3 separate regions of the Homo sapiens genome follow, and regions 1 and 2 are each linked to region 3. The links come from fine-mapping of genetic effects on gene expression. A gene starts in region 3. Each other region holds a variant in brackets. All regions are shown on one strand. Distances are from middle to middle.

Evidence for each region. PIP is the estimated chance that this variant, and not a neighbour inherited with it, causes the effect. A credible set is the group of variants that fine-mapping cannot tell apart.
Region 1: its variant is the best candidate, but not a certain one, in a credible set for the expression of SLC9A8 in Th17 cells (Schmiedel 2018, PIP 0.86).
Region 2: its variant is the best candidate, but not a certain one, in a credible set for the expression of SLC9A8 in whole blood (TOPMed, PIP 0.90).

What each region holds. Positions count from the first base shown.
Region 1 is chr20:48,881,109-48,885,347 of GRCh38, reverse strand. It overlaps a transcript of PREX1 not described here. Among named protein-coding and RNA genes, the nearest start is that of ARFGEF2, 38 kb to the left of the region's middle. The variant A/G (reference allele first, on the strand shown) is at 2,530.
Region 2 is chr20:50,025,500-50,029,738 of GRCh38, reverse strand. SCREEM1 (SNAI1 cis-regulatory eRNA expressed in monocytes 1) reads left to right here. Exons shown (of 3, transcript XR_936829.1): 2 at 1-25; 3 at 298-648. Among named protein-coding and RNA genes, the nearest start is that of SCREEM1, 2.9 kb to the left of the region's middle. RefSeq lists enhancers at 724-1,561, 1,562-2,401. The variant G/A (reference allele first, on the strand shown) is at 1,890.
Region 3 is chr20:49,810,772-49,815,010 of GRCh38, reverse strand. SLC9A8 (solute carrier family 9 member A8) reads right to left here and starts at 2,183. Exons shown (of 16, transcript NM_015266.3): 1 at 2,063-2,183; 2 at 1-3. The coding sequence starts at 2,088. RefSeq lists a silencer at 1,935-2,214 and an enhancer at 2,365-2,504.

The sequences.
Region 1 (4,239 bases), 930 kb after region 3:
TCCATTCATTCATGTATTCGCTGTCATGTACTTATTCAAGAGATATTTATTAAGCGCCTGCAATATGCCACACACACTCTTTTAGGTGCTGGACCTACGACAGTGAAACAGGACAATGTTTGTACCAGGGCTGTATCTGTTATATCCAAATGACCTATAGTGATGATGATGATAGTGGCTAGTATTAGACTCCTTATTATGCTCTTCTTTATATGCGTTAACTCATTTACTCCTCAAACATCCCTAAAAGTGGTACTACTATATTTATCCCCATTTTATAGATGAGATAACAAAAGCAGAGAGAGGTTGAGTAATTTGCCTGAGGTCACACAGCTAGGTATAATGGACCTGGGGGTCCAACACAGGTGGTCAGGCTCTTTCATGCATGGACATTATCCAGATTTAAAACCCAGGATTTAGGCCAGGTGTAGTGGTCTTGAACCCCTGATCTCAAATGATCCATCCACCTCTGCCTCCCAAAGTGCTAGGATTACAGGCATGAGCCACCGTGCCCTGCCGGTTTATTTGTCTTTTTACTATTGGGTTGTATTCTTTAGATATTCTGGATATAAGCCCTTTATCACATATGATTTGCAAATATTTCCTCCCATTCAGTTGCTTGTCTTTTAACTTTCTTGATAGTGTCCTTTGAAACACAAGTGTTTAATTCTGATGAAGTCCAATGTATCTATTGTTTTTCTTTAGTCATTTATATTTTTTGACATCATATGTAACAAGGCCTTGCTTTACCCAAAGTCACAAATATTTATTCCAATGTTTTCTTCTAAGAAGTTTATAGTTTTAGTTCTTATCCTTAGGTCTGTGATCCACTTTTAGTTATTGTTTGCATATGATGTGATGAAGGAGTCCAAACTCATTGTTTTCACGTGACCACTTATTGAAAAGATTATATTGTCACATCAAACTATTTTGGTTCCATTGTAATAAGTCAACTGACTATAAATGTAAGGGTTTATTTCTGTCCTCTTAATCTGTTCCATTGACTTATCTGTCTATCCTTATGCCAACGCCACACTGTCTTGATTATTGTGACCTTATAGTAAGTTTTAAAATCAGGAATTGTGAGTTTTCCAATTTTGTTATTTGTCAAAGTTGTCTTGGCTGTTCTGGGTTGCTTATATTTCCACATGAATTTTAGGGTCAGCCAACTAAAAAGAAACCAGCTGGGATTTTTTTTTTTTTTTTTTTTAGACGGAGTTTTGCTCTGTCGTCCAGGCTGGAGTGCAGTGGTGATCTCGGCTCACTGCAAGCTCCGCCTCCTGAGTTCACGGCCGTTCTCCTGCCTCAGCCTCCCGAGTAGCTGAGACTACAGGCGTCCACCACCACGCCTGGCTAGTTTTTTGTATTTTTAGTAGAGACGGGGTTTCACCGTGTTAGCCAGGATGGTCTGGATCTGCTGACCTCGTGATCTGCCCACCTCAGCCCCCCAAAGTGCTGGGATTACAGGCCTGAGCCACTGCGCCCGGCCCCAGCTGGGAGTTTTATAGGAATTGCTTTAAACCTGTAGATTAGTTTGGGGAGTATTGCTACATTGATAATATTAAGTCTATCAGTCCATGAAAATGCAATGACTTTCCTTTTATTTCGGTCTTCTTTAATATTTCAACAGTGTTTTCAAGTCTTCACAGCATAAGTTTTGTACTTCTGTAAATTTATTCCTAAGTATTTTATCCTTTTTGATGCTATTGTAAAATGAATTGTTTGCTTAATTTTATTTTCTGATTTTTCATTGACACTTCATAGAGATAAATTTTTGTATGTTGATCTTATATCCCACAGCTTTGCTAAGCTTGTTTATTAATTCTAACAATTTTTAGTGGATTCCATGCCATTTATAATATACAGGATCAAGACATCTGAAAGTAGAATAAAATTTTATGTCTTCCTTTCTAAACTGGATGCCTTTTCCCCCTTATGTAATTGCCCTGGCTAGAATGTCCAGTACAATAATTAATAGATGCAATGAGAGCAGACATCTTGTCTTGTTGCTAATTTTAGGGGGAAAGCATTCATTCACCATCAAGTATGATGTTAGCTGTGGGATTTTTTACAATGCCCTTTCTATTTGTGGTTTTGATCATGAAAAGACAATGGGCCAGGCACGGTGTCTCATGCCTGTAATCCCAGCACTTTGGGAGGCCAAGGTGGACAGATACCTGAGGTCAGGAGTTTAAGACCAGTCTGGCCAACATGGTGAAACCCCGTCTCTACTAAAAAAATACAAAAAGTAGCTGGGCGTGGTGGCATGTGCCTGTAATTCCAGCTGCCTGGAGGCTGAGGCAAGAGAGTCGCTTGAACCCGGGAGGCTGAGAGGTCGCAGTGGGCCAAGATTGCATCACTGCGCTTCAGCCTGGGTGACAGAGCAAGACTTCATCTAAAAAAAAAAAAAAAAAAAGGACAACCCAACTGAAGGATGGACAAAGAATTTGAATAGACACTCCTTTAAAGAAGATATACAAATGACCAATAAGCTTATGAAAAGATGATTAAATTTATTATCACTGGGAA[A/G]ATGCAAATTAAAGCCACAATGAAATACCAGTCCACACCCACTAGTGAGGATAAAATAAAAGACAGATAATAACAAGTGTCAGTGAGGCTGTGGAGAAGTTGCAGTCCTTATATATTGCTGGCAAAAATGTAAGATACCACAGCCACTTTGGAAAACAGTTTGGCAGTTCCTCAAAATATTAAGCATAGAATTGCCATTTAACCCAGCAATTCTACTCCTAGGTATATATACCCCAGAGACACAAAAATATACATACACATAGAAACTTCATAGAAACATGAAGATTCTCTCTTTTTTTTTTTTTTTTTTTTTTTTTGAGACGGAGTCTCACTGTGTTGCCCAGGCTTGAGTGCAGTGGCGCGATCTCGGCTCATTGCAAGCTCCACCTCCTGGGTTCACGCCATTCTCCTGCCTCAACCTCCCGAGTAGCTGGGACTACAGGCGCCCGCCACCACACCCGGCTAATTTTTTGTATTTTTAGTAGAGACGGGGTTTCACCGTGTTAGCCAGGATGGTCTTGATCTCCTGACCTCGTGATCCGCCTGCCTCCGCCTCCCAAAGTGCTGGGATTACAGGCGTGAGCCACCGCGCCCAGCAACATGAAGATTCTTAACAACATAATTCATAATACCCCAAACCTGGAAGCAATGCAAATGTCCATCAATTGATGGTTGTCTAAACAAAATGTATATCAAAATAATGGAATATTCTTTAGCTGTAAAAAGTTATAAAGAACTGATACATGCTGTAGCATGGATGAAGCTTGAAGACATCATGTTAAGTGGAAGAAGCTCGTCATAAAAAACATATTGTATGATGATCTGTATGATATATACAGAATAGGGGAGTGCATAGAGACAGAAAGTAGATTAGTAGTTGTCTAGGGCTGGGGGTGGGGGTGGGGAAAGGAGCATGGGTAGAGATGGGGATGGGGTTTCTTTTGAGAGTGATGAAAACATTCCGAAATTAGATTGTAGTGATGGTTGCACAACTACAAGAAACCATTGAATTGCACACTTAAAGATGAATTGTAGGCCAGGTGCTGTGGCTTACGCCTGTAATCCCAGCACTTTGGGAGGGCAAGGTGGGCAGATCATAAAGTCAGGCGTTTGAGACCAGCCCGGCCAATAGGGTGAAACCCCGTCTCTACTAAAAGTACAAAAATTAGCTGGGCGTCGTGGCAGGTGCCTGTAGACCCAGCTACTCAGGAGGCTGAGGCAGGAGAATCCCTTGAACCCGGAAGGCAGAGGTTGTAGTGAGCTGAGATCGTACCATTGCACTCCAGCCTGGGTGACAGAGTGAGACCCTGTCTCAAAAAAAAAAAAAAAATGAATTGTATGTAAATTCTATCTCAATAAAACTGTTAAAAATAAGTTAATAAATAAGGACAGTAGATACAAAGGCCAAAAATATGAGGGAGGAGTTATGATAAAAACCACCTGTCAATTGAACTTAAAAGCAAGTTTATTAAAAGGAGCATTTTAAAAAGCAATTGTTGGAAAGGATTTATTGCTGGGTTTAAATTCTTTTTTTATTATGGAAAAATGTTAAATGTACACCACAGTAAAGGGAAACATATAACAAAGCAGTCTCCATCACCCAGTCCAACAATTATCAACTCATGGCCCATCTGGTTTTCGCTATACTCCTACCCACTCCCCCACGCTGAATATTTGAAGCAAGTCCCAGAATCATGTTGTTTCATTATT
Region 2 (4,239 bases), 210 kb before region 3:
GGGACCCTGCCTGTCTGCCTGGAAGGTCAGTTCTCGCCCTAACCCCACCTGGAACTTGACCATGTCTCTGCAGCCCCTCTGCTCAGGACCCTCCAGGGGCTCAAGGCAAAAGCCACATCCTCCTCATTGCCTGCCCCACCTGCCCGCCCCGTCCCCTTGCTGGCCTCACCTCCTGGCCTCGCCCACTCTGCTCCCACCCGACTGGCCTCCTGCCTGCTCCTTGACTCTGCCCACCACACCCCTGCCTCAGGGCCTTCACACTGGCTGTTCCCTCTGCCTGGAACTCTCTCTCCGCAGACACCCACATGGCTTCCTTCGATTCGTCCTGCAGATCTCCCTGGCATCACTTTCTGAGACACCGTACTCAACCCCCTCCAACAGGGAAAGCCCCCGCGCTATGTCCTGACTCCCCCAGCTGCGCCTGGCTCCCCCACCTGTGCCTGGCTCCTCCAGAGACACCTGTTCCAGCCCAGTGTGCGGTGTGCTCATTGTGCCATCTCCTTGGGTGGAGTGATGGCTCCATGAGGGCAGGCAGGTTGTCTACTCTGTTCACTGTTTAAAGCAGGGCCCTGCCCGAAGGAGGTGCGCAATACCTTCCGGGCAAATAAATGAATGAATGGATGAACTAAAGGAATTGGGAGGGGGAGTAGGAAGAGCACACTTAAAGCTCAGGCAGGTGCCGGGCGTGGTGGCTCACGCCTGTAATCCCAGCATTTTGGGAGGCTGAGGCGGGCGGATCACGAGGTCAGGAGATGGAGACCATCCTGGCTAACACAGTGAAACCCCGTCTCTACTAAAAAAATACAAAAAATTAGCCGGGCATGGTGGCGGGTGCCTATAGTCCCAGCTACTTGGGAGGCTGAGACAGGAGAATGGTGTGAACCCGGGTGGTGAACCTGGGAGGCGGAGCTTGTAGTGAGCCGAGATTGCACCACTGCACTCTGGCCTGGGCGACAAAGCGAGACTCTGTCTCAAGAAAAAGAAAGCTCAGGCAGGCCCCAGTGTGGTGGCTCAGGCTTGCAATCGCAGCACTTTGGGAGGCCAAGGCTGGTGGATCACTTGAGCTCAGGAGTTCGAGACCAGCCTGGGCAACACAGCAAAACCCCATCTCTACAGAAAAATACAAAAATTAGCAGGGCATGATGGTGCACGCCTGCGGTCCCAGCTACTCGAGGGGCTGACGTGGGAGGATCACCAGAGCCCGGGGAGGTTGGGGCTGCAGTGAGCCATGATGGCACCACTGCACTCCAGCCTGGACAGCTTCACTGAAGAGGTGACATTTAAGCTGAAGCCTGAGATTTGAGAAAGAACCTTGAAGTGTTCCAGGCAGAAAACACAGCCAGTGCAAAGGCCCTGAGGCTGGAACCTGGTCAACACACTCAAGAAAGAGAAGGAAAGCTGTGAAGCTGAGTGCAGTGTGTGTGTGTGTGTGTGTGTGTGTGTGTGTGTGTGTGTGTGTGTATGTGTTGGTGGCGAGGGAGGGAGGAGTTTGCAGCCTATAATGCAGGGAAGTGCAAGGACCCCACTCTGACACCCCAGAATCTCCTTGCCCCCCTGGCAGGTGGCTTTCTGTCTGTCCCACCCAACAATGGTTACAACTGGTGTCTCACTCTCCACTCCCTCCCTCCCCCAGATTATCCCCTTCCCCTCCCTCCGCCCCGCTCCCCCTTTTCCCGCCTGGCCTGGCAGAGCCGGGAAACAGTGACTCAGGAGTCTGGCCGACTCAGGCCTCCCTCCCCTTCGTGTCAGGCTGCTGGGCTGGAGCCAGCTTTGGCCTGACATCCAGCCTCAGGCCTGACATCCAGCTGGGCTCCGGCCAGGGGTGCCCTCTCCTCAGCATGGCAGACACTCCACGTGGCTTCTTACTGGAGGCAGGAATAAGAGTAACA[G/A]CCCAGGTCATGTAAATATAACCTTCCCCACCACGTGTCGTGGCTATCCCCATTTTCCAGGGGAGGAAACTGAGGCTGGGTGAGGCTGTGACACTTGTTACACACCCTGGGGATGTGGTGCCGACAGTGGCGGTGCCCAGTTGGCAAGTGCAGGGCAGGGGGCTGGTTGGGGCTGAGGCTTCACCAGTGTAGACAGGCTGCAGACTTCCCCAGGTACCTCCCAGGCAGGAGGGACCCAGGGCTGCAGGCCTGGCCTTGGATCCTAACACTCCCGCAACGCCAGAGCTGGGGTCTCCCTTTCTCACTAACCCCACCCCACATACACTCACCAAGAAAGAAACAGGCCAAGAGTCAGGGAAGGAAAATACCCAGCAAAGGAGACAGGGGACACTTCCTGGGGGGTCCTGGGCCCTCTCCCCATTTCCTCCATCAGTGACTCCCACCATCAGCCAGTGACCTCAGTTGAACAAGTTACTTCATTGTGCAGAACACTAAACCACATTTTTCCAGACTTCCCTGAGAAAGACACACGTGGTTCAGAGTTTGGGCTCCAGTCAGATCCTGACTGTCTGGGTTCAAGCCCCATCTCAGCCGCTTCTTAGCTGTTCAACTCTGGGCAACCGTCTCCACCTCTCTGGGCCTCAGTTTCCCATCTGAACAACGGAACTTCTAACAGTACAGCCTCCCAGGGTTGTTTTGTGCCTTGGCACACAGCAAGTGCTCAAAGAATGTCCCCATTGTTCTCCACAAGCCCTGATCTGTGCAAAACCTCAGCAGAGAGGCTCAGGGACCCCCCACCCTGTGTCCATGTTGAAAACTCGCCTGTGGAATTCTCGGTCACCCCATTCCTTCTGACAGAGTTACAAATTCAGATTAGATTTTTATTCTCTGACATCCACTTAACAGGCCACAGTTATTATTGTTTCTGGCCTAAAATACAATGTGTTTCTGGTGAATTAATGGGTCCAGGCTACTCTCACTCCTGAGGAGATAAGGTCCCAGCATTTCTGGAAAACTATGTGCTGTTTTCTGATCTGGAACATTCAGTTGTAGCATGGACATGGGACTTTTGAAGTAGACACTACTTCTACTTCTGGGCCACCCAACATTTCCAACCCTGGGGAGAAGATTCTGGGGGTCCCTGACTCCCTTTTGCCCCAGAGCTGCACCCGAAACAAGAGCATGGGATTCTGGGGCTGGGGGGACCCTTGTGTAGAAAAGGATAATAACAACATTGATAACCATAGCAGCAGGCCAGCCTTATTAAATTTTTTTTTTTTTTTTTTTTTTTTGAGGTAGAGTCTTGCTCTGCCTCTCCGGCTGGAGTGCAGCGGCTATGATCTTGGCTCACTGCAACCTCCGCCTCCAGGTTCAAGTGATTCTCCTGTCTCAGCCTCCCAAGTAGCTGGGATTACAGGTACCTGCCACCATGCCCAGCTAATTTTTGTATTTTTAGTAGAGACAGAGTTTCATCATGTTGGCCAGGCTCGCCTTGAACTCCTGACCTCAAGTGATCCATCCGCCTCGGCCTCCCAAAGTGCTGGGATTACAGGCATGAGCCACCACGCCTGGCCTTATTTCATTCTTATCCTCACCATTTGAGGGAGTTTTTCTCCTTAGCACCATTCACTGGGGAAACTGAGGCACAGAGAGGTGAACCAGCTTGCCCAACCTCACTCAGCCAGGACGGAGCAGGAGGGGGTGGGAATCCATGCAAGTTTGATAGAGAAACACTGACTTTTACCTCTTTCCTCACCTTTTCCACAGATGGCAACTCAAGAGGCTAAGTGTGGACCGAAGTCACCCTTGTTACTGCTCTCATAATCTCTCTTTTTTCTCACACTCTTCCTTCTCAGCTTTAGGTTCAAGTTGGTTTGGAATCCAACAGGCCTGACATCATCATTTCTCACCAGTGTAACCTTGGCTCATGAATTCTGCTTTCTGAGCCTCAGTTTCCTCATCTGCAGAATGGGGGCAGCACAGAGCCTCCCTCATTGCCTTGTTGTGAGCGTTCCCCAGGATCATGAGTGCTTTAAAAGGTGCTTAGGTCAGCTGAGCACAATGGTTCACACCTGCAATCCCAACACTTTGAAGGCTGAGACGGAAGGAAGATCGCTTGAGCCCAGGCGTTCAAGACCAGCCTGAGCAACATAGTGAGATCCCATCTCTATTTATATATTTGAAGTGCTTAGGTGGTAGTTCCTCAATAAATTAAACAGAATTACCATATGATCCAGTAATTCCACTCCTGGGTATATCTCCAAAGAACTGAAGATAGATATTCAAACAAAAACTTATACACAGGCCGGGCACAGTGGGTCACGCCTGTAATCCTGGCACTTTGGGAGGC
Region 3 (4,239 bases):
CTCCTGGAGGACATAGAAAGCATAATTAGATAATGGAAAAGGGTCCCAAAACATCAATTCACACACCTCACACCAGAAAGAGAAGCTGTCCAAGAACTTTATGGGATTCAGAAGTCTTTAACAGGCAGGCCTTCGAGAGAAACTTACTAAGAAAATCCCTGCCTGCACAGCACAAGGGTACCAGTGGCCTCTGGTGCTTTTGAATACAGCCACTTAGAGGACAAGAACGGTAGGGAATCAGAGCTAGTATAGAAATGAAATGCTGCCTGCTCTTTGGCAAATACTGGGGGATTTAAAGGGAGGCAAACTGGAGTCTCATCACTTTCCAAGGTCCAACACTGTTTACTTAGCACCTTTGTTTCTCCAATTTACATTATTTTCCTGGCATTATTTCTGCAAGTTGAAGAAGCCACCTCAATTTGCCCAGTTGTTGATCTGGGCATGCCCTACCCTACTTTACAAAATCCCTCTCAGATTTCAAACGGCTCAAATGTCACCTCCTATTACCCCATCTTACCACACCCGAATTTACCCACTCCACTGCGTATGTTCCCACAGCTCTTTCACACTGTGCTGGGATTGTGAACTAGTACAATATTGCTATAATAACTGTTACTGTGACTACAAAAGTTATTATTTTCTGAGCACTGCTTTATTCCAGGAACTAGGTAACACACTACCTCTCATTTAATAGGTATAACATGTCTGATTGGGTATGATTACTTTCCGTTTTTTACTCATGCATAACTAAGGCTCAGGGAGGTTGCAAAACTTCACCAACATCTCAGTTAGTGGCAGAATCAAGCTGAAAACCCAAACTTGAAATCGCTGGGCTATATTGCCTCTTTTATTTTGTGCTGCTGAGGCTGTTTAGTGTCTGGGATGGAGCAGCTGCTCAATAAATAACTGATTACATGAAATGACCCCCACATGGCCAAGAAATATATTTGAAAAGTTATCAGGTGAAGGACTCCAGTATCAATGAAGGGGTTCCTTATTCATCTTCACATACTCATTCCACAAACAGTGATAGGGCATCTACAATCTGCAACAGACTCTGCCCTGCAGGTATGGAGATGACTTTTGGACTTGCCCAAAAGTACCTGGAGGACACAGCCCGTCCTTCCCCATCTCCCCTTGTCCAGCTAACCCCCTTCCTCTCTACACACCAGCCATGCTGCCTGTCACTCAAAAGCACTAAACTCTTTCTTGAGCCAGGCCTTTTGAACCTGATGTTATTTCTCCTATCCCTCATTCTGGTCATTCAAGTTTCTGCTGAATGTCACTTTTTCCTGAGTGGACTCCCCAACCTTAACTCTATTTTGCTTCCTTCAGAACACTTAACCCATTCATGCCAGAGGTTGCAATTTTTAGAACTGCAGACGTGAGAAAAATCAGACCTTGGCGATGACCTTGAGCAGTAGGATATAAATAACTCCCACATGCTTAGCGTTCCAATAATGGAACACTAGGCACAAATAACGTTAATTAATCACGATCTGAAACCACCTTGACTAATTATGGTCTTCTTTTCCCACTAGAATGGAAGCTCCCAGAGAGCGGCTCCTGGTCGGCCTCCTTTCCTACCACCTGCCCAGGGCCTGGAATTGAGTAGATGGCTAACAGTTAATGACTAAATGAAACTTAGTGAAGGAGAAAGACATGAAAACTGATCGTTATACAGGAGGCGACTGGCTACGTAGGAGGTGGGTGTGGAGAACCCGGACGACTTCCTGGAGGAGGCGGAAGAGGGCTCAGTAACCATGAGATTACCGAAAACTGGGAAAGTAAATATGGTTTGTATTTTCCGCAAGACAGCTCTCCGGGCCTGCGCTGGGCAGTAGATTCCCAGCTCGAGGGACCGATCTCCAGGGGAAAGCAAGGCCCACCTGGGCCCAGGCCCGCCCATCCCGCCCTCCTCGTAGGCACCGGCTTGGTCAGTCCTGGCCAACCAGCAAAAGAAGCTCCGCCTTCCGGGGCCGGAGGGCGGCCTGAGGCGCTCGCTGTCACCCGCCGGGGCCCAGCCCCGCCGCCTCCGCCGCCCGGGAAAAAGCCCACTCACTCCTCTTCCGCCATCTTCTCCCCCATCCTGCGGAGCTTCCAGGACCACCGAGTTCGGAGCCGCGGGGCTAGCAGGACCCGCTTTTGCTTCCGGCTTCCGCTGGAGGCGCGGGCGGGCGAGCGGGAGGCGGGGCCTCGGCCGCGCGAGGGCGGCCCTCTGTCCCTCCGTCTCAGTGGCCCGAGGGTGGGAGAAAGCGCGTGGGAGGATTGCTTCTTAGTCTCTCCCGGGGCTTTCGGGACGCTTGTCCGGCCTGGGCCACATGACCACCTGGGACCGAGAGATTCCGGCTTTTCCCCATCACAGGGCGGGGACGTTTTGGGGAAACTCCTCTGAGGTCACTGTGACTCACCCTGAGGGCAAGCAAGCACCCTCCACCCAGTGCCCTCGACTTCGCTGTGCTAAAAGAGTTTGAAAAAGGATGCCCAGCCTGCAGCCTAAGCGGAGAGACCCCAGGGGGACACTTCCCCACCCGAGCCTTAGTTTCCTTCGGCTGTGGAGAGGAATAACCGCCTGGACTTGGCAGGACTGTGCAGCATTCCATCTGTAAACATGTGTTGAGTTCAGACTATATGCCTAGCGTTAAAAAGGATGCTGATGATCTAGGGGTGGACCATTCATTAAGGGGTTCATTGATTCACCACATGCTTAGTAGATGCTTCTATGTGCCTAGCAGTGACCGGTGGGGTGGGGATGCAGGGAGGAACAAGGTGAGGTGAGAGGGGTAGGTGAGACCCCCATCGGGAGGACTGGGGCTGAGGACTTTGAACTTTATTGGCCGCTTCTGTTGCTACCTCCCTTCCTGATCCAAGGCACTCTATCTCATCTGGATAATTGCAACGGCTCCATTCAGGGTCTCTGACTCACCCCTGTTCCTTACGGACTTCCACACAGCAGCTTAACTCATCACTCCTCTGCTTAGACCCTCCAATGGCTTCCAATCTCCAGAGAAAAAAAAAACGTGGGGAATGTACAGGACTCAATCCTGCCCCCTTTTCCCCTCTGAAGTGTGTGGGAGGGGGGCATGGGGCTCTATATCTCCCCTCCCACACACTTTGACTTTCCACTATTGTCCCAGACTCACCAGGAATACTTCCACCGTTGCACTTACTGAGCCTTTATCTAGAATGCTCTTCTTCTGGGTAGCTCTTTGGCTCCCACCTCTCCTACGTTTGGCCTTTTATTTAACCCTTATCTTGTGTGTTAGACCTCCTTGACCACCCTACTTAAAATCCAAGGCCCCCCGCCTTCCCTAAACTATTTTTCCACATGACACCTAACCTACCATATGTTTTACTCATACACTTGTTTGTTAACCATCTCCCTCCATGAGAACGGAAGCTTCATGAATGCAGAAATTTTTGTCTGTTTTGTTCTCCATTTTATCTGCAATGCCTACAACAGTACCTGGCACATAGTAGACACTCAATAATAAATAATCATTGAGTAAATAAATCAGTTAATTCTAGCACACCTAGAAGGGTTTTGAACTGAGAAGTAACCTAAGCTTTGCTGCCTGTTGGGAGTTGACTGGGGATTGGCGAGAGAGAGAGGATGGAAGCCCCAAAGCCAGCAAGGAGGCTTTTGCAATAATCTAGGTGACAGCTGATGGCAGTCTGGATGAAAGTAATACGGTGGAGGTGGCAGGAATGGTTGGACTCCTGGACGCATACTGAAGACAAGGTTTGCTGACGGACTATGGCGTATAAAAGAGGAGTTAAGCATGGTGTCAGGGTTTTGGCCCCGAGGAACTGGGTAGAGAAGAAATCTGGCTCTAACCTTGGGTTCTCCATCCTCTGCAGTCTCTTAAGACTGCTAAAGCTGACTGAGAGAATGTCATCAGGATCCACCAATGTTTATTGAGTAATAATAAACTTGCTTCCTTCCTGCAGGTGTGGTGTTGGGCTATTGTTTCCTTAATTCTTTACATAGCTTTGAGGTAGATACCATCATTATCCACAGACATAGAGAAATCAAGGCACTTGCCTGCGGTCCCACAGCTAGCAAATGACAAGGCTGGGATTCAGGCACAGAGCCAGTGTTTTTAAACCAGTAGCCCTGCTACTCTCCACTGCCTTAATTTCTCTGGCTCTTAAATGGGACTAATAACCTACTCTCCTCCGTTAGCACAGAGCCTGGCGGGAATGACCTGGTCTACAAAGGATTGAGAGTGGGGTTCT